5 separate regions of the Homo sapiens genome follow, and all the other regions are linked to region 5. Evidence: fine-mapped expression QTL. A gene starts in region 5. Each other region holds a variant in brackets. All regions are shown on one strand. Distances are between the middles of the regions. Region 1 has its middle 21 kb from the start of LINC02902. Region 2 overlaps TNS3 (tensin 3). Region 3 overlaps TNS3 (tensin 3). Region 4 has its middle 13 kb from the start of LINC02902. Region 5 holds the start of TNS3 (tensin 3).

The links. PIP is the estimated chance that this variant, and not a neighbour inherited with it, causes the effect. A credible set is the group of variants that fine-mapping cannot tell apart.
Region 1: its variant is the best candidate, but not a certain one, in a credible set for the expression of TNS3 in whole blood (INTERVAL, PIP 0.72).
Region 2: its variant is the best candidate, but not a certain one, in a credible set for the expression of TNS3 in monocytes after Pam3CSK4 (Quach 2016, PIP 0.87).
Region 3: its variant is the best candidate, but not a certain one, in a credible set for the expression of TNS3 in thyroid (GTEx, PIP 0.83).
Region 4: its variant is the best candidate, but not a certain one, in a credible set for the expression of TNS3 in blood mononuclear cells (TOPMed, PIP 0.59).

What each region holds. Positions count from the first base shown.
Region 1 is chr7:47,673,712-47,677,828 of GRCh38, reverse strand. No RefSeq gene overlaps it. Among named protein-coding and RNA genes, the nearest start is that of LINC02902, 21 kb to the right of the region's middle. The variant G/C (reference allele first, on the strand shown) is at 2,464.
Region 2 is chr7:47,512,590-47,516,706 of GRCh38, reverse strand. The region is part of intron 2 of TNS3 (tensin 3); the gene reads left to right. Among named protein-coding and RNA genes, the nearest start is that of SNORD151, 50 kb to the right of the region's middle. The variant T/C (reference allele first, on the strand shown) is at 1,791.
Region 3 is chr7:47,329,713-47,333,829 of GRCh38, reverse strand. The region is part of intron 20 of TNS3 (tensin 3); the gene reads left to right. Among named protein-coding and RNA genes, the nearest start is that of SNORD151, 130 kb to the left of the region's middle. The variant A/G (reference allele first, on the strand shown) is at 2,454.
Region 4 is chr7:47,665,843-47,669,959 of GRCh38, reverse strand. No RefSeq gene overlaps it. Among named protein-coding and RNA genes, the nearest start is that of LINC02902, 13 kb to the right of the region's middle. The variant C/T (reference allele first, on the strand shown) is at 1,940.
Region 5 is chr7:47,580,061-47,584,177 of GRCh38, reverse strand. It overlaps TNS3 (tensin 3), which reads left to right and starts at 2,067. Exons shown (of 31, transcript NM_022748.12): 1 at 2,067-2,127. RefSeq lists enhancers at 1,656-2,193, 2,194-2,731.

The DNA of each region.
Region 1 (4,117 bases), 94 kb before region 5:
AGTGATTTGCTGCTTAGAAATTTCATCCGCCAGATTATCTTAGGTCATCCCTCTTAAGTTCAACCTTCCATAAAGCCTTAGGGCATAAATACAAATATTTGTAACAAGTGTGACCTTTGTTCCAGTTTCCAAATAGATACTTCCCATTTCCATCTGTGACCTTATCAGAATGGCCTTTACTGTCCATAATTCTATAAACATTTTGGTCACAATAACTTAACTAGTCTCCAAGAAATTCCAAACTTACCCTAATCTCTTTGTCTTCTTTGGGCCCTCACCAGAATTATCCTTAATGCCCACTTCAGGGCAATGCAGTGCTTTTCTAGCCAGCTCCTCCAAACTCTTTCAACCTGTGGCCATTTCCCAGTTCCACACTGGCTTCCACATTTTCAAGTACCTTTATAAAAAGACCCCACTGCTCAATACCAATCTTCCATCATAGTCTATTTTGTGTCGCTAAAACAGAATACTTGAGTCTGGGTAATGTATAAAGAAAAGAGGTTTATTTAGCTCACAGTTCTGCAGGCTGAGAAGTTCAAGAGCATGGCCCTGGTTTCTGGTGAGAGCTTTTGTGCTGCATCATAACATACATGATGAAGAAGGTCAAAGGGCAAGAAGACACACCTGAAGAAACAAAATGCAAGAAGCATTCTGTCTGTTTAACAGTCAACTTTTGCGGGAACTAATTCATTCTGTGGGAAATTATCCAGGCTCATCAGAGTGAGAACTCATCACCACAAGAACAGTACCAAGACATTCACGAGGGATCCATCCCCATGACCCAAACACCTCCCGCTAGGCCCCATCTCCCAAAGCCACTGCACCGATGGTAGAGATGAATAAGCCCATTTCCAAACCATAGCAGGTAACTGCAGAGCTATGACATCCACAGATAACGAACATGACAAAACCTCACGGCACAGAGGAGTGCCATGTGGTTTGGAGGAGAGCGTAGAGAAGTTTGCAGTGGATCTGCTTCACTCCATCTATAAATTCAAATGCTAATCTTTTCTGCAAACACCCTCACAGACACACCAGAACTAATGTTTTACCAATTACCTAGGTATCCCTTAGCCCAGTCAAGTTGACACATGAAACTGTCACAAGCACAAACCACATCTGTCTCTCTAGTGCTTTTTCCCTAAGCACCAAGCACTATACCCAGCACAGAAAAGACATCCAATACATATGTGTTCTATAGAATGGAAAGGAATGTTTTTCCACCATCTTGAATCAGGCACTTGACCCAGGGGTTACATAGCCATTGCACAATTCCTTCAGTGCTATAAGAATGGGCTATAACTGGCCAGGCGCGGTGGCTCACTCCTGTAATCCCAGCACTTTGGGAGGCCGAGGTGGGTGGATTACGAGGTCAGGAGATCGAGACCATCCTGGCTAACACGGTGAAACCCCATCTCTACTAAAAATACAAAAAATTAGCCAGGCGAGGTGGCGGGTGCCTGTAGTCCCAGCTGCTGAGGCAGGAGAATGGCATGAACCCTAGAGGGTGGAGCCTGCAGTGAGCCGAGATCGCACCACTGCACTCCAGCCTGGGTGACATCAAGACTCCGTCTCAAAAAAAAAAAAAAAAAAAAGAATAGGCTATAACTGGGCCAGGTGCAGTGGCTCATTGGCTCATGCCTGTAATCCCAGTACTTTAGGAGCCTGAGGTGGGCAGATCACGAGGTCAGGAGATTGAAACCATCCTGGCTAACACAGTGAAACCCCGTCTCTACTAAAAGCACAAAAAATTAGCTGGGCGTGGTGGCGGGCGCCTGTAGTCCCAGCTACTCGCAAGGCTGAGGCAGAAGAATGGCATGAACCCGGGAGGCAGAGCTTGCAGTGAGCCGAGATTGCGCCACTGCACTCCAGCCTAGGCAACAGAGTGAGACTCTGTCTCAAAAAAAAAAAAAAAAAAAAAAAAAAAAGAATGGGCGATAACTGTTATTGCACCCATTCAATACACAGGCAGACTGAGACAGCAAAGTCAAGATTTGAACGCAAGAGCAAGATTTGAGAAACTGAGGCATTTTTACTCTTCTGTGCTGCCTTACTTGTTGGCAGTACACATGAAAGACATCAAGATTTAGATCTGTGTCAGCTTTCCCTCAAATGGTAAAGAAGGACAGGGTTTGAATTTCTTGGTGAACTTGGAAATACCCGATGACTTGAACCATTAGGGTTTAGGATACTTTTTCTTCAGGCAGCATGTTGCCTCCTATGCATAAATTAAGTCAATTCAGTATTCCCAGTATGGCTGGAAAAACATCATACTAAGCTAACAATTTTCAGTGTCATTTAAGAATTGCACTGAGGTGGCCAGGCACGGTGGCTCACGCCTATAATCCCAGCACTTTGGGAGGCTGAGGTGGGCGGATTGCAAGGTCAGGAGTTCAAGACCAGCCTGGCCAATATGGTGAAAACCCGTCTCTACTAAAAATACAAAAATTAGCCAGGTGTGGT[G/C]GTGGGTGCCTGTAATCCCAGCTACTCAGGAGGCTGAGGCAGGAGAACCACTTGAACCAGGGAGGTGGAGGTTGCAGTGAGCCAAGATCACGCCACTGCACCCCGGCCTGGGTGACAGAAAGAGACTCTGTCTCAAAAAACAAAAAAAATTTTGCATTGAGGCCAAGTGTGGTGGCTCATGCTTGTAATCCCAGCTTTTAGGGAGGCCAAGGCAGGAGGATTGCTTTGGCTCACAATCCCTTAAAGCTGCCGTTTCTCTCCTGTGTTACAATGTGCACAGTGACTGCACTGATCAGTCACCACTGGGATGTGCTTGAGTGTGTATGTTTGTCTGAGTGTGTATGCTAATATGTATAAAAGTTTGTGTGTGTGAGGGAGTGTGAGTACATGAGAGTGCATGTGAATGTGTGAGTCTGTAAGAGAGTGTGTGTCTGTGGGGCATGTGAGAGCATTGTGAGAGTATGTGTGCATGTGTGTATGTGTGCACAATTGTGTGAGAGCATTGTGAGGGTATGTGTGCATGTGTGTGAGAGTATGTGTGCATGTGTGTATGTGTGTGTGCATGAGCGTGTGAATGCAGGTGTGTTTTCTGCTCTGCTCTGATCACTTTTCTACCTGGCCTCTCTTCCTTCACATTTGCCCCCCAGAATCCCTTCTCCACACAACACCTGAATTCTCTGTTTGTAGAGCTGATAATACCCTATGATTCCCCTGCCTAAAATCCTCCAGCAGCTTCCACCTGACTTCTAACTAAAACCCAGCTCCTCACCGTGCCCCATAGGCCCTAGCTCAGTGAGGTGGGGCGCCTGCCTGCTGCTCAGAGCCTGGCTCTGCCTCTCTCCCCTCCTGCTTGCCCCAACCACCATGAGCTTTTGTCCAGCCTGGGAGGGACCAAGCTTTTTGGCACTGTAAGGACTTCGTGTGTCCTCCCAGCCCAGACCCCCAGAATGCTTTGTCCTCTGGCTGGTGCGAGTGTTAGGAAAGTCCGCATCTTCAGAGAGGCCTTTGACCCCGTCCATATGGACTGATTACCTCCATCTCCCACTTCTAGAATGTAAGCTCATGAGGCAGAGCCTAGTGGGTCGTGTTCCTGGCCATACCTCCAGGGCCTGGCATAAAGCAGGCCCCCGCAGACCCCCAAGAATCTCTATGAAGGCCAGTGGTGGATGCACCAGGCTGGGAATCGGAGTCTGCCCCTGCAGTTGCCGTCGTCCAGCACCTTAGACCCTCTGAGCCTCGGTTGCTCCATTTTTCTTTTTCTTTTCTTTCTTTTTTTTTTTTTTTTTTTTTTTGAGACGGAGTCTCACTCTGTCGCCCAGGCTGGAGTGCAGTGGCGCAGTCTCGGCTTACTGCAACCTCCACCTCCCAGGTTCAAGCGATTCTCCTGCCTCAGCCTCCCAAGTAGCTGGGATTACAGGTGTGTGCCACCATGTCAGGCTAATTTTTTGTATTTTTAGTAGAGACGTGGTTTCACCATGTTAGCCAGGATGGTCTCGATCTCCTGACCTTGTGATCCACCTGCCTTGGCCTCCCAAAGTACTGGGATTACAGGTGTAAGCCACTGCACCTGGCCCGGGTTGCTCCATTTTTCATCCTTCCACACTCTCCGGGCCCCTCCTCAGACCAGGCCCTAAGACTGCAGGAGCCAGCGTGT
Region 2 (4,117 bases), 67 kb after region 5:
GCGTAGTAGGAGGAGGACGGACCTGGCCCATCTCCTTACGTGCTGCCGCATGTGTAGATGGGGCATTAGCAGGGTAGGGGGTGCTGCTTACTGAGTTGGAGCTGGGAGCCGGGCACAGTCACTGTGGGTGTAGAACGGGGTAGAGGCAGGATGTGGGGATGCTGCAGCTCATTGAGTTGAGATGGGGTCCTGATAGTCACTGCAGGTGTAGACAAGGCAGAGGCAGGATGGGAGGATGCTGCTCACTGAGTTGAGATGGGGTCCTGGCAGTCACTGCAAGTTTAGATGGGACAGAGGCAGGATGTGAGGACTCTGCTCACTGAGTTGAGATGGGGTCCTGGCAGTCACTGCAAGTGTAGATGGGAGCCTGGCAGAGTCAGGGATGGGCTGCTCCACAGGAAGCTGTGGCCCTGGACAGTTGCACCCTATTTCTGTTCCTCAGTGCCGTGATCTTTACAATTTGTACATTAGAGTAGTTAATCTCTAGGATTTTCTCTTTCTCAATAGACTATATAGAGACCACTCCCCAAATAGACAATTTCATAGTGTTCTCTACTAATAATTCACATATGTCATATACATTTGCATTTTGATCCCTTTGTGTACATGCTACCTGGAAACAACAAGGTATTCCCTTTACATAGATTATGTAAGTCATCATGCATCACAGTGATGTGACGTTTTGGTAGAGGTGTTCTTTCTTTGGCTTATTTCTGGGGAAGCAGCAGAGCGTGGTGGAGGTGAGGTGGATGGTGGAGACAGCCTGCCAGCATTCCTGCTCTGCCTCTTTCTGCTTAGAGTCATTGTGAGGAATAGCAGGGTAAATACACATGAAACACAAAGAACACTGAGGAGCTCCAGAAAGTGTTCAATGGTGTCAGTAATGACGATGGTGATAATGATATTGTTAGTGATGGTGATGAGGGTGGCAATGGTATGCCGATAATGATGTTGTAATTGATGGTGATGATGGTAACGATGATGGTGATGGTGGGTGGTGGCGTGATTGATGATGATGGTATATTAGTGATGATGGTGTTGATGGGGATGGTGATGATGATGGTATGATGTTGGTGAAGATGGTGATGGTCAAGATGATCATGATGGTGATGGTGAGTGGTGATGGTGTAATTGATGGAGATGATGATGGTGATGGTGTGGTTGATGGTGACCATGGCACTGGTGATTATGTTGACATGATGATGGTGATGGTGACGATGTTGATGAATGGTGACAATGATGGTGATGATGATGTTGATGACAGCAATGATAGTGCTGTGACTGGTGATGGTGATAGTGATAGTGTAGTTGATGGTGATAGTAACAATGGCAATGGTAACGATTGTGATGATGATGCTGATCGTGATGATACTGATGGTGATGATAGATGGAGAAGGGTTAGGGGCATATTCTGTGATGCAGGCCAGTATTTCTACCGTTCCTTTTCTGGCTCATTCTTGGACTTTCAGGTCCCTGACTTTCACATTTTAACCTCCTAGTTAAATGCAAATTTCATATGTGGTTAAGTAGAAAGAAAACATTTCATCTTTTAAAAACTGTTATGTTAACATGTAAGGGCCCTGTTATCTCTACTCTTGGAACTTTAAGTAAGGGAAAGAAAAGATAGAAATGACATTGAGCAATGGGGTTAAGTGTCCAGTTGTGGTTTTTCTTACACTCCTCAAAACCTTGCTGGTGTGCTCATACCATCAGTTAGGACTCTGAGGCAACCCGTTCTCACTACATGTCACTGAGTTCCCTTGGGTGGCCTAACATGGTCCAGTTGCCAT[T/C]GATATCCCAAAATGGTTGTATTTCACAGAGGACAGAGGAAGGTGCTGTTATGGGTGAGTCTCGGCATTCTGGAATTGAGTAGATTCGGCCCCAAAAGTTACAAGTTTTGTGGGACTTGGTCCCTGGAAGAAGGTAGATCCAGGGAGGATCCAGGGTCAGACCACGCATAAATGCTCCCCATTTGAGAGATGGTTTTCTGGGATCTAATAGTGGAATCAGCGAGACTATCATGGAATGAGACAGGATGGCACAGAATAAAGAAGTGCTGCAACAAGAGAGACAGCTGTAGGGAAGGCCTAAAGGAGATGAGAGTTGAGAAAGGAAGCAAGGAGAAAGGAGAAAAGAAGCAAGGAGAAAGCTGAGAAAGGAGACCAGAGGGAAAGTGGGATGAAGGGAGTTTTGTAAGAAAGATTTGGTAATGGGTTGTTCCACGCAGTTAACCCAACATTATTAAGCACCTGCTAGGAGAGAAAGATGAGAGTTTTGTGTCCTGTCTTTGAGTCCATCGGAGTCAGCAATACACTAAGTGATTACAGATAAAGGTTTGGAGATAGACGGGCAGGTCGGTAGGTGTGTGTTTTTTGCTTTGGGCCAGGTGCAGTATTAGGACTTCAGGAGAACATGGTAGTTATTTAAAACTAACAAGGCAACAATGGGGTCATGGGGTTGAGCAGTGAATGTGGGCATTGGGCAGGCCTTGTCTGGCGGTCCCCCGCTGTGGGTTAATCAGTCCCCTCCTGCCTTGTGGAGCCTGTTACTGGGACACAGAGAGGCTGGCAAACTTGACAGTTGATGCTAGGAGAAGCAGAGGGTGACTCACAGGCTTGTTTATAACTTGGTCAATATGTTTCGAGTGTTGTATAAAAGATTCTGACAACCCTGTAAGACAGTGGCCTGGATTCCCAAGGCTCGTGGAGACGTTGTGAAGAATAGCAGTTCCAAGACAACATATAAAAATGTTGGGCGTTTGCAAGCCAGACAGCTCTGGGCTGTAACTGCTGCAGCGGGAGCCAGGATTCTTAAACATGAGTCTGGAAACCTCGTCTGACAAGGGAACTGATGTGTGGTTTGCAGACTGTCAGCTGTGGAGCCGAGTGTTCAGGCAAAGCCACGAGAAGGGGCCTGCCACACACCAGCTCAGACGCCGGAGGGTAAGCTGGGCTGGAGAAGGTTCAGGCTCCTCACAGGAAAACGCTTTTGGTGGAGCCTACTTGCATGGAATGTCACTGACCCTCTCACTTGAGATTTTTCAGCTTTTCAGTTTTTGCAAGTTGATGGATGAAAAGTGATGTCTCCTTTTTATTATGTTTTTCATTCATCTGGTGATTACATGAGGTTGAACATCTAAAAAGATACAAAAAAGCTGCCTGCAGCATTTCTGTTTACTTAGCAAAGTAGCCTTTCAAATCCTTTGTTCATTGCTTATTTAAAAATTAGATTATTTTAGGGCGTGGTGAGGTGGCTTATGCTTGTAATCCCAGCATTTTGGGACGCCGAGGCGGGAGAATCGATCGAAACCGGGAGTTCAAGACCAGCCTGGGCAACAAAACAAGACCCCATTTCTACAAAAAATTTAAAAATTGGCCTGCACAGTGGCACGCGCCAATGGTCCCAGCTACCCTAGAGGCTGAGGCAGGAGGATTGCTTCAGCCTGTAAATTTGAGGCTGCAGTGAGCTATGATCATGCCACTGCACTCCAGCCTGGGTGACAGTGAGACCTCATCTCTAAAAAGAAAAAAATAAATAACATTTTGAAAATTAATAAATTTAAAAATCATTTTTTTAAATTTCTGAGACTTCACTATATTATGAATACTAAATCTTATCTGTGATATTAGGCAGAACTTTTGCCAATTTCTAATGACATTTGTCCTCAGAAAAGGTCAGTTTCTTATCTTTCCACTTTGTACATTGCAAACATTCCAGTCAGTTGCTTGTCTAAGTTTGTTTGTGGCCTGTTTGTCACGCAAAAGTTGTAATGTTTGGTTTGTTCAGATCTACTCATCTTTTCATTTAGTTCATACTCTTGTTCCTTGTTGTAGAATGTCTGCCCTTTTCCAAAGTCACAAAGATGTTCTCTGATATTTTATTCTAATAATTCATTTCAGCTTTTCCAATTCCGAATCAGTTCTATGATTGATGCATCTGAAATTCATGGTATTTCTGTTATTATTATGATGATGTTTTTCATGGAGTAACCAGTTTTCCCAGTTTTGTTGTCTGGCTCCTCCTTTCTGTCTGAGTTGTGAGGTCTCTCTCCAGTGTCATTTTCTCTCCTATAGATGAGGCCACCGCGCATGTCTGTCGGTCACAAAGTTTATTTCAT
Region 3 (4,117 bases), 250 kb after region 5:
ATTCAGAATGCACTTTCTTATTGAAATAGTTTCAGAGCCCCAGGGACTGATAGAGAGACACAGCGTGAGAAGAGGACAAGAGGAAGACAGAGACAGAGAGATTATTTTGACACAATGCTTTATTTTTATTGAAAAAGCTGTCATCCTTCAAAAATTGACAGATACAATGCTTTTACCAATCTTCTTCTTTCTTTCCTGTACTCGACTCCCTTTTCTGTTGAATTTTTATGAGCTCTGAATGAGAATGTTTATAATAGGGACAAAGGCATGTACTGAATGTGAATATGTGTGACATTTATAGAGGCCCTTGTTTACTTTGGATTTTCTAGAGCCTCAAAAGCACATGCATTCCTATATGGATTTCTCCATGGGTTTATATTCAGGTACGTAGGCATATGTAAGTGTGCATAGGAATAGACATGCCTGGATACATGCCTGTGATGTACTTTGCATTCCAATTAGTGCCAAAGAATGCACACTGGTGCATGGTGACCCCAAAAAACTGGTGTGGATTAGCAAACATCGCAGCCTCCTCCAACCCCTGCCCCAGATGAACAACATGAAAAAGAAAAGTTGACTGCTTCTAAATTATATTTAAAAGTAAACATCAGTGCTGGGTTCGTGGAGGTCAGCCTAAAGTGCTGGCCTGTGAATGTGCCTTTAGGGGTCTTTTGAGATGAGAACATGAATTCATTTGAGGGTGATGAAGCTAAAAAAAAAAAAGGTGTTGGCTTTCTGTGCTGACACCTCATCCGCGGAGCAGGCCAGCTTGGAAGTGTCCCCATGTCAGCCTGCAGACTTCTCTACCATGCTGAATGTTCTCGTTTGCTCACTTTGGGTTTAGAGGAATCTGCTTTTCTAAATTTATTTATCAGCTCATTCCATTACCCCCTCCTCTCCTGGTGGACTGTTCTTGACCCTCAGCATGTAGAAGTTATTCTGAAGTGCTGCTAACAGGATTTGATGCTGGCCCTGGGGCTTGGTGACAGATGTGGCTCTGGTCCTGCCCGTCTGTAGCTCTGTGATCTTGAACAGTTTGCATAACCTCTGAAAGCATCTTTTAAATCTAAGTAAAATAAGAATATGTGTGCCATGCATGGTGTTGGGGGAAGTCTCTTAAAAATGAAAATTTCAGCCTGTGAATACGGTAGTGTAACAAAAATTTGTCTTAAAATTTCATTTTTTAAATTCAAAATGCACTTCCTTATTCAAGCATTTTCTGAGCCCCATTGTCTATGAGAATTGTGCTCCATCCCGGGATTGAGGAAGGGAGGCGGTCCTGGCCCTGGGGCAGCTCGCGGGCTGGGGTCCCTTCTGAAGCAGCCTGTGGCTGGTGTGGAATCCGGAATCCACAGCTCGGGCCTGAGCCTGGGCTTGTCTCCTCCTCGCTGCTTTGAACAGGAAAAGGCAGTTCAGCCCAGCAGGATGCCTCTTAGAACTGGGAATGGCTTGGAAGAAAATGCTTATGAAGCCCCAGCATATAAAATGTGCAAGGATGTTTCCCTGCTGGAAGCATTTACCTGGTATCCCTTGCATTTTTACTTTCCTCCGAAGGCCCTCACCTTGTAATCCACCTCCCCACAGTTCCATCCCCTCTAGACAGCAGCCTGCCTCACAGTGGTGTCCCAAGAGCACTGGGCGTCAAGAGGTAAAATGCCTGGGCATTTTCTCTGAAGCACCTGTTACCACTGTCCCTTCAGGCTGTGATTCCTGGCCAAAATGCACCCATTCTTTTTGACACACTTGGGAGGGTCTGGGATTGTGAGACTTGCAGAAGGGTCAGATGTCTTGAGTCACTGAGAGGGCTGAAGAAGGAATATGTAGTCTGCTTCTTGACATTTGTTACTGGCCCGGGCCTGCCCCATCAGAGCCTTTGAGGGCATTACCAAGGTGCCCCCCAGATTAGTGTACCTCCTCAACAGATAGGCATTGGCCAGGCTGTCCTACTTAGGCCAGGAACCACCTTGTTGTCTGTTTAAATTCTATCACATTTTAGTGACACACATATGTAGACATGTTATATGGTACATATGTGTGTTATGTGTGCAGGTATTTATGGCTCTGCCTAGATTGAGGCATTTGCCACTTTCTGAGCACTTCTTACAGGCCATGCACTTATATATGCACACATGTAGAGAAAGAGCAAATGAACAAGTTTACAAAAAATCCTGAAAGCCAGGCAAGTGAGAATTCCATCATTTGGAATGAAAGTAAACTTTTCTGATGCTTCAGGGCCAACCAAGTGTGCGATGGGCGTCAGAGGTCAGGTCTCCATGTGTCACCTGGCAGAGGGATGGTGTGAGCAGCTCACTGGAATTTGATTTTTCCAGAGGAGCATGAGATTGGGTTACTGTGAAGTCCCAGTGTCGCTGAGGTTGTGGAGGGTTTGTGTTTTGTGTTTGTTTTTAATTCCTTCTCCGCAATGCCCAAGTGAGCACTCCACTTGAGTCTCA[A/G]GAACCCCAGAGTAGAGCTCGCCCTGGGGTGCTGGCCAGCACGTAATTCTCAGGAACAAACAAGTACATTCGAATAAAGCTGAGGATCTCAGTCTGCAGTGCCTGGTCCCTCGGAGGCATTCTAGTATCCCTCTTAGTTTTGTTTTATTGGGGCAGAGCCTGTTGCTGAAAACAGAACCTGTGGGTCACCCTGACTATCCTTCCCAGGCCTTCGAGAACTGCCTTGCATGTAGTAGAGAGACTCACAGTTTGCAGGAGTGGCACCGTCTTTGAGGCAGCTTTCACATAAAGCATCTGAAGTTCCTTTGCTAAGTCATGTGCCCAGTCCTCAAAGGTACCTGCAGATCACCTGATCGCTGGGAGTAGGGCTGGTCCAGGGTTCCTCTTATTGTGTGCACACATAAGGTTCGCCCGAGTCCGGTGGGACAGAGATGTGGGAGGTGATGGGATGCAGCCCCTGTAGGACCCGTGAGGCTGGTGGACAGGCAGTGCGGGCTGGTGGGAGGGTGTTAAGGGAGAATTCCATCCAGCTGATCAGGTCGTGTCTCAGGAAGGACGTGCCCCCTATGGAGGCTGCGAGACCTTTAAACTTGCTCATCCCTTCCCGTGTGTCTTCTCTGGGCGCCCCAGCTCCTCCCTTCTCCTTGGTTTAATGCCCCTTTTCTCACCTCCCTCTGGCAACCAAGTCTGCTTGTGTCTTCCTCCGAAAGGGAAACTCCTGTTGCCCCTTCTCTCCCTCTGTTCCTCCTCTCCCTCCTTGCTTCACCTTCCCTCCGTCCTTTTGTTTCTGCTGCCTCGCTCTCACCTGCATTTGAAGGATGTGACTTCCCAGTGGGACCTGGGTTGGGATTTGGTGTCACCCTCCCTCCCTCAGCCTCAGGACATTTCCAGAGCAGAGTCTTCATCACACTCCTGGCATCTAACACAGAGAAGGATCTGGATAAAAGTTTGTTTTGTTTTCTGATGGGTAAGTGGAAGGAGAGAGACAGTCTCTCAGCTCCAGGGAGCTGAGTGCATCATGCCTGCAAAGGGCCTGAGCCCGCAGAGTGGGAGCTGCGTGAGACCAGCACCTGTGTTTCTGAGAGGAGACCTGGCATTGCCGGCTGGTGGGGTGGGCTGTCCTCTTCCAGGTGTCTGATTTGCACCCCTGCTTGATTTTGCTAAGGTGCAGTGGGTGGTCCTGGCTGTAGCAGAGTCAACATGTGGACAGTCCAGGTCCTGTCGTCCCCGGGGATCTCTGGGTGTTTGGGTGGGGGGAGCAGACTGTCCGGGAAGAATTTTTAAATGTTTTTTCCTCAGTGGACTTGCTGCCACCTGGAGCCCACCTTTGAAATCACTTTAGTCCCTGGCACTGCAGCTGAGGAGAAAGAAGCAAGAGAGGAAAGATAAACAGATCTCCAGAAGATGCTTAAATCTGTAGATTCACACTCAGGATTGTCCCAGTCATGGCTGTGACACGGGCACAGAAGCAGCATGCCCTGCCTCCTCCTCCCTGCTGCCCATCCCTGTGGGTTTGCTCCGAGTCACTGAGCCCACAGTTCCACGGAGGGAATGGGACCCACCCTTGGGAGTGCCATCCTGGTCACAGTCACCCTTCCTGGGCCTGGCTGCCCCATGCTGGTGCCGCCCCGTGCCGCCTTCCTCTCTGCTTGGGGAGTGACAGG
Region 4 (4,117 bases), 86 kb before region 5:
ACAGGCATGCACCACCGTGGCCGGCTAATTGTTTTATTTTTATCTTTTAGTAGAGACAGGGTCTCTCTATGTTGCCCAGGCTGGTCTCAAACTCCTGGGCTCAAGCAGTCCTCCCTCGTTGGCCTTTCAAAGTGCTGAGATGACAGGTGTGAGCCACCGAGCCCGGCCAACAAGTTTTTTTAAGTGAAGGAAAACGAAAAACAAATTTCAGATTGGGGAACAGCTAGAGGCAGCCACAGGAACAACTTGCAGTGGGTGTTGGGCAGCAGGCTGAGTCACTCCCTGGCTCCACTGGGCTGTGTCATGTGCACACGCTTCATGTATGCCTTAAGTGACGTTCAAAAGAACACAATGCCACATGAAGCCTAACTCAGCAAGCCCTTTCTGTAAGAGGAGAAATAACTACCCCTGCTCTTGCCCACTTTCTTTCAACAGGGGCCAGCATCACCTGCTCCCCTCCCCCATCTCTATGTTCCATCTCTGGCAGCCTCTGCACAAAGGTGTCCTCCAGGAGGCCAGGTGGGCACCAAGGTTCTTGAAAAGAAAGGAAAGGGAAGCGCAGTGTTCCACAGCTGGTTCCCAAGAAAACAGCAAAACAACTGCGCACTCATTCTGAAGGACGGCAGACAAGACGGTTCCTCAACACATGAACTGGTTTTTCTTGATGAGTGATGGGTTTTTGACCCATTCCTGCTGCCCCTTCTGGGAAAACTGGGCAGCCCCAGGCTGTGTCAATGTCACCAGCTGAATTGTGTTACCCAAAATTCCAAGACTGAAGTCCTAACCAGAATCTCAGGATGTGACCTTCTTTGGAGATAGGGCCTTTACCAGGAAATTAAGGTAAAATGAGGCATTACGGTGGGCCTTAATCCAATGACTGGTGTCCTTATAACAAGAGGAGATTGGGACACAGGCTTACACACACATCCTTAGGGAAGAGGGAGGAGACAGCTATCTACCATCCGAGGAGAGATGCCTCAGGAGAAACCAAACCTGCCAACACCTTAGTCTCTGCCTTGCTGCCTCCAGGACTGCGAGGAAATTCATTTCTGAGGGTTCAGCCACCCAGCCTGCAGCACCTGCTATGACATCCTCGGAAAATGAAGACTGTGTGCCCTTTTTTCTACCTCCTGTGGTTCGAGGGCAGACCCAAGCCCGGGATAAAGCACGCTAGGTTTGGAATTCACTCCCACACTCCTTAAGATAGTTCCTACATAACCTTTGCTGAATTCCTCTAGCTTTCCATGCCTCTGTTTTCTCACTGGTAAAGTTGGGATCCTACGGCCTTCATCATGAAAGCTGTTAAGAAGATTGAGTTCATGTGAAGTTTAGAACAATGCCTGATACAGAGAAGCACTCAATAATGATGTTGGCTCCTACTACTATTTTTATTAGGAGACTTTTATTCATTAAGCAAGTATTTATTGAGCATCTGCTATGCCCTAGGGACAAACAGACCTAGATGACACTCATCTGGTTTAGTTGAATGGACCTAGCTGCAGGTACTACTTGGCCTGGAGGGGATCCGTCGGTATCCTCTTGGCTCCAGGAGCATCTCCTATTGCTGCACCCCAAGGGCCTGAATTGTTGCTGGTGTACATTAGGCACTCAACAACTGCACAGTGAAACAAAGCCAGAAGGCTGACCCCCATTGGCTCAGTCCAGCCCTTTCCTTGCTACTGCTCAGATAGAGCTTGGAGCCTCCCTCTTGCGCAGCTGGGCAAGGCCAGGGCAGCTCTCACTTTTCGGCAAACCCTGCCCCTTCCTCGGTCCCCAGGTTCAGTGGTCCCTGGAGCCCACTCCCTGATGTCCTCTTCCTCACACAAAGATCCTGAAAGGCAACCTTAATTCCCACAGCCTACTCCTGGCCTTTGCTACATTCATTCATCCATTTGACTCACTCTTTTTTTTTTTTTTTTTTTTTTTTTTGAGCTGGAGT[C/T]TCGCACTGTCGCCCAGGCTGGAGTGCAGTGGTGCAATCTCAGCTCACTGCAACCTCTGCCTCCCGGGTTCAAGTGATTCTCCTGCCTCAGCCTCCCGAGTAGCTGGGATTATAGGCGCCTGCCACCACACCCAGCTAACATTTTGTATTTTTGGTAGGGATGGGGTTTCACCATGCTGGCCAGGCTGGTCTCGAACTCCTGACCTCGTGATTCGCCCACCTCGGCCTCCCAAAGTGCTGAGATTACAGGCATGAGCCACTGCGCCTGGCCAACTCACCTTTTCTTTATGGAGAAAATGGGCTCTGTGTTTCGGCTGAGGGTCGGCTACATGCCTGCATGAACCAAGAGAGCGAGGCTACACGCACAGCAGCTCTGCAGACTCCAGGGCTGAATGCTCCTGAGGGCAGCACAAAGCCCTGTGGGAGCAGCAAAGGGGAGGGTCTGCCTCACACTCAGGTATTAGGAAGATCTGTGCCCCTTCTCCCTAAGGTAAAGTTTGACTTGGGCCTTAAAGAGGGTATCTGAGTTTGACAATGGAGAAGGACTCAAGACCAGGGGTCCTACAGGGCCTGTGTACCTCCAACAGGGAAGGCTGATCCCAGCTTTAACTCGGTTACCTCATCCTGCCACCATAATGCTGCAACCTCCTTGAGTGAGACTTCTTTTTTTTTTTGGACAGAGTCTCACTCTGTCACCCAGGCTGGAGTAGCTGGGACTAGAGGTATGCACCACTATGCCCAGCTAATTTTTTTGTATTTTTCGTAGAGACAGGGTTTCGCCATGTTGAACAGGCTGGTCTCGAACTTCTGACCTCAAGTGACCCACCCTCCTTGGCCTCCCAAAGTGCTGGGATTACAGGCATGAGCCACCATACCCGGCCGAGTGAGACTTCTTGCGTGGTACATGTTAGGGCCCCTGCAGGACAGAGCCAGCAGGTCGGCTTTATAGGACCAGTACATGCTGCTGAGGTCCTACTCACTAGGAAGTGTCACGGCCCTCAGCCTTAGGCCCCAGTACTCATCAAAAAGGGACTCATGGGTGAGAATGACCAACATGGCTTGTGTCCTTGTAGGCCAGTCAGGGAAAGCCTGTGCTGTAAGGCTGAGATCAATGTCCCACCTTCAGCCAAGGGCCAAGGCCCCCGGGTCTCCACATAGGGAAACCAGAAGAACTGGTCCCTTGGGCTCCTTGGAGTTACCAATCCAGAGGACTGCAGCAGGACTAGGTCCGCCTTTGCAGTTAACCATGTTTGATTACAGCACTTTAGAGTCCATAACTGCACTGTCTGAATAATCATCACAGCCGCTGCCATGAACTGAACTCTTACTATTCCAGGAATGGCTCATATTTTTCACAGACTTTTAACAGTATGATTCTTGAAGGTTTAGGTCATTCTGAAAGTTGATATGCCAATGACAAAAAAAAAATAGCAAGAAAAGAAAAACAACATTTTTTTTTATCATGAACCTACCTTCATTGTATCTGAATATACGTACCGTGCAAGAAGGCTCACTCGGCCTGGCGCGGTGGCTTATGCCTGCAATCCCAGCACTTTGGGAGGCTAAGGCAGGTGGATGTCATGTAGGAGCTGGTTGAAAACTGAATTCCCTTAAAGTACATGTGATGTTTGAGACATTCTGCTGGAATGTAGAATTGACATTCGGGCTGAGGCAGCATTTCCATAGTTCCTCCTGGCCCCGGTCAGTTATGCACAGATGGTACAAAGGGTTCATTCAGCAGGAGAACCTGAGGCCTAGCAGCCTGTCCAAACCCTGCAGCAGGTAAGGGGGGTTCTGTTCTCGTTTTCTTCTGCTGCCAATCCAGCACTTTATATTCTAAAGAAGAATGCAAATTTCCAAGAAAAGCCAGAGAATCAATTAACTAAAGTATCGTATTTTCCTTTGTAAGTGATTTTGAATCCTGTCTGGAACAAAGTGGGCACACATATATACATGCATGCATAACATGCATTAGCTAATGAATTATGGTAGAAGACCCTGCTTACTTATTTTCCATCAGTCAAGCTATAATCATGCTCATTAAATTTGTGATGTAAGAAATTGATTTTGTGGGAAAATTTGTTTTTGTTTTTGTTGTTTTCACCTTTTAGTGGGCAGATCGTTGGAGAAGGCCTGGAGAGGAGCAGCTGGCAGAGGCGGCTCCTTGAAAACAGAGCA
Region 5 (4,117 bases):
AGAAACAAAGGTGTGGTTGGGGCATCCCATTCCATTGCTACCCCAACAAGGGCAGTGTGGCCGGTGGGGCCATCTGGCTTGGGTGTGGGTAGCAGTTTGGAGAGATTTTAGAAGAGGCTCCCTGACAAAGGGTCAGAGAACCCCAGCACTGCACTGAGTTTTCCTGACTGTGAGCTCTCAGACAAACAACAGTGTCACCTCCTGTAAATGGGTGCCCTAACACTGCAAGAAGCTCAAATTCATGTTGTCATTCAGCCAACATGGTTTTTGGCATTATGATGGTTTCTGTGATGCACAGAATAGCACGTAATTGGCTCTGGGTGTGAAGATCACCACGGTCTTAATGGAAGAGAGGGTTGAGCAAAGTGATGATTTAGTCCAATTGCACAGAGTGGATGGTGTGGGCAGGCAGCTGGGAAGAAGTTAAGAGTAGCCTCAAGGCCAGATAGTCCTGATCCCTCCCACTTTCTTCGCCTGACCAGGTGGGTGACCTTGAACAAGTTGCCTAGAATGTCAGATCCTGTTTCCTTATCAGGACAAAGGAGATCGTAACAGTACCAGCCTCACCCCCATTCCTAACCCAGCTGGCTGTGACCTCCTCCCCACCTTCCCCTATGGCATCTTCCCTGGCACCCCTTGACTCATCTCATTGACTCTTGACCTGGTGTCTCCTAGAGTGTAGGAAAAATGCCTGCCTCATCTCTAGGGGCTGGGGCATGGTGCTCATGAAGCCTTTGCCTGGGAATAAATACCCAGATCAGTCTGGGGATGAGAAATGACACTACCTTCCAGAGCACAGCAGGGGTTGTTCAAGTCTTCCAGAAAAGCAGCTCTTGTTTCTCCTCATGTGGTGGGAGTGGAGTCAGAGCGTGGCTCAGGCCCCACATTCTCAGCTGTTTGGATCTGGGGACTCGAAGTTTCTGGTGGTTACTTCTGAAAGTCTTTTCCAGGATAATTATTCTTGCTCGGTTTCTCTGCCATCTCTGACAGGCTGTTTTCCCTGCTTCCCCCGCTGCCCTGAAGGGGCCAGAGGAACAGGGCAGGACCCCAGGGCTGCGGATGGGTTAGGCAGCTCTGTTCCCGAATCCAAAGCAGTTCTTGGTGACTGTCCTCCAAGACTTGCCCTGGACCCTGCTCCGGGTGGGATTCTGAGACCGCCTGCTCCACGTGGCAGATGAAATCTAGGTCTCTTCTGTGAGAGGCTGGCGGGGAGGATGTTTTCCTGGAAAGGACCACAGGACAAACCGCTGATGAAATTTCTCTTGTGACCTCCCTGGAGGAAGAGCACTTCTGATTTCTGCAAACTTTTTCCATTCCCCCGATCTCACAAATGGGGAAACTGAGGCTAAGCGACTGAGTTCAGGGCCATCTGAATCTCAGGGATGGACAGTCAGGATGGACAACCTATAGGCCTTTCCTCCTCTGAGAATCTCTCTGCTCGGGATCGTTTTTCTGGTTTCCCCTGGCTTGCCTAAATTCTGCTCATTTGTCCCGGCGCATTTTAAGAAGTCATGTGACTTCTAAAGACTTCCCTGACCTCCTCCCTTCATTAGCTGGGTATTTCAGGGGCTTCTACGGCACCCTAGGCTTTCCGGAGCGGCTGTGCTCCTTTATGTATGCGCGACTCCCACTAGGCTATGAGCTACAGGAGGGAGGGTAGGTCTTGCTCCCGGAGAGCACCTTAATCACAGGCGCTGAATGAAAGAATGAACTGGTTGTGCAGGAACCAGGATCCGAACCCGCCTCCCCAGGTACTCTAACACCGGCCCGGCGGAACCTGCAAGCCTCCAGACCACTTGGAGCCTGGGCTGCTCAATGGGTCTGATAATTCCAGGTCCTCTCTGCGGCCAGCGAAGGGAGGTCCCAGGGCGCACCTCGGCAGGGCGGGGGACCCCGGTGAAGGGCGCCTGGAGGCGCGCTGCATTGTTAGGGTGATGAGGCCAGGTGACCCGCCAGGCTCGGGGCGCGGGCGCGGGGGCCGGCCGTGGCGATTGCCCGCGCCGCCTCGAGGGGGCCCTGCCGCGGGCGCCGGCAGCCAGCCAGGAGGACGGGCCCGCCCGCGCGCTACTCGGAGCCCAGCCTCGTTGCGGCCATCGCCCTGCCGGACCGCGCCTCAGGCTCCCCCAGGTACTGGGGCCGGGGAAGGAGGAAACGCGGCCACGCGCCGCGGTCCTCTTTGTTTCGGGCCCGGCGCGGGCTTTCGCGCTCCGGGCGCAGGAACGAGGCTTGGGGAGCACAGAGATCTGGAGCTGGGGCGCGGGGACTGAGTTCGGGGAGCGCGGAGACAGAGTTCGGGGAGCGCGGGGTACGGGAGCTCAGGGCGCGGGGATGGGGTCACGGGAGAACCCAGGTTAGGGAGCGCGGGGACCCGGTTGGGGGCGCACGGGCAAGGGGTTTGGTGCGCGCGGGTACGGGGTTTGCGGCGCGTGGGGGGCGGGGGCTCGGCAGGAGTCCCAGGACAGGGGCTGGGGCGCGGGCCAGCTTCGCCGGAGTCCGGGGACGGGGGCGCTGACTGGCTGGGTTTGGGGACTGGCTGGGGCGCAGGACCACTCGAGTGGGACCCGTGGCGCCCGGGCGCCCTGGACTGAGGGCAGAGACCGGAGCAGCTATGTCGCAGTCGCTGTCGGGACCGAGCGGACTTTGCTCCCTAGGACTCCGTCTCGAGACTCCAGGTGGAGAGCGCAGCTAGGGGCTTCAATGGGCAGGCTCAAGACCCTTCTCCTACTTTTTCTAGGCAAGCTCTCCAGTGCGTCTCTTTCCCTTTCCCTTTGGTGGGTGGGAGGCAGGGGGTCTTTACGCGCTTCCTTTTTTTCCCTGAAGGACGGGACCTCGGGGTGGGGGGATATTCTGGGGTGGGGGGTGCTGTCCCAGGCTGGGGGCCAGCTGTGTGGCATGTGCCTCCTGGCACGCGGGAGCTGTCGCTGACAAGCAGGAGGAGGGAGGGTCCCGGACGGCCCAGGGGTCTCTGTGTCGGTGCTGTGCAGCGGCCTGACATGTGAGTCCCGGGTCCTTTGCTTGGAGTGATTTGAGTGTCTGTGGCGGGAAGAGATTCAGGCGTTCCTCAGGCATTCTCCAGACAGTGTCAGCAGATGACCCGAACTCCAGCGTGGTTGAAAAACTCAAAGCGCCATCAGGGTGTGGGGCCAGCAGAGAGCACTACTGAGGGTGGTCACAACCCCCTGGGAAGCCCCCAGGCTTCCTTGGGGCGCATTCACACACTTTGATCTTCCGGGTTGGCTTTCCCCCCATTTTTTTCACTATTTGAATGCATGATCATGGAGGACTCTGAAAATATACTGAAAAGTATGAATGCAGAACTCATTGTATTAATATTGCATGGCCCTTCTGAACTAACCAACCCTTTGACATTTTAGATTTTCTTGAGGCTTTGGTCTGTGCATATTAATTTTTTAAATTGCTTTCATGCTTTCCCTTTTGAATGAGGTTTACTTGTTCTGGTGATTCTGGTTCTTCTCTCTTTGGGGCCTGTGAGGTTATATTTGCAAATCAATCAACAAGTATTAAGAAAGGCTTTTCTGTGCTGAGGCCTTGAGGGCCAGGGAGGGGGTGGGGAGTCGCTGCAGCTGGAGGGTGGAGGGGCAAGGCCATTACACAGAGATGGAGGTGCACTGGGTCCTGGTGGGGGTGTGGTAGCACAGGGGGTGGGGGGTGTGTACACAGGGAATTGACAGGAGGAACTGGCAGCAAGCCCGACTCCTGACCTTAGGAATAGTAATGGTGACCCCGAAGACAAAGTAACAGGCATACCGATTGAGTGTTTGCCTGTGCTAAATGCTTTGCATGCATTCATTTCATTTCACCCAAATTACATTCCTTGGAGGGAGTTGGGATTATGATTACCCCATTTTACAGACGAGTAAACTGAGGCAAAGGAAGGCTAAGTAACTTGGCCGAGATGAAATGAAACATGGTGGTAGTGCAGCCTGGGATTCTGGGACAGGACTCTAGGGTCCCAGACCCCTGTTCCTGGCTGCTGCTGCGCGTCTGTCGACTGAATTCTAATGCATGTCCAGACAGCGATTCCTCAGCTGAGGCTGCCATAGCTATCAGCAGCTCAGCTGAATTATGTCTTTAAAAAACTACCAAGATAGAAAAA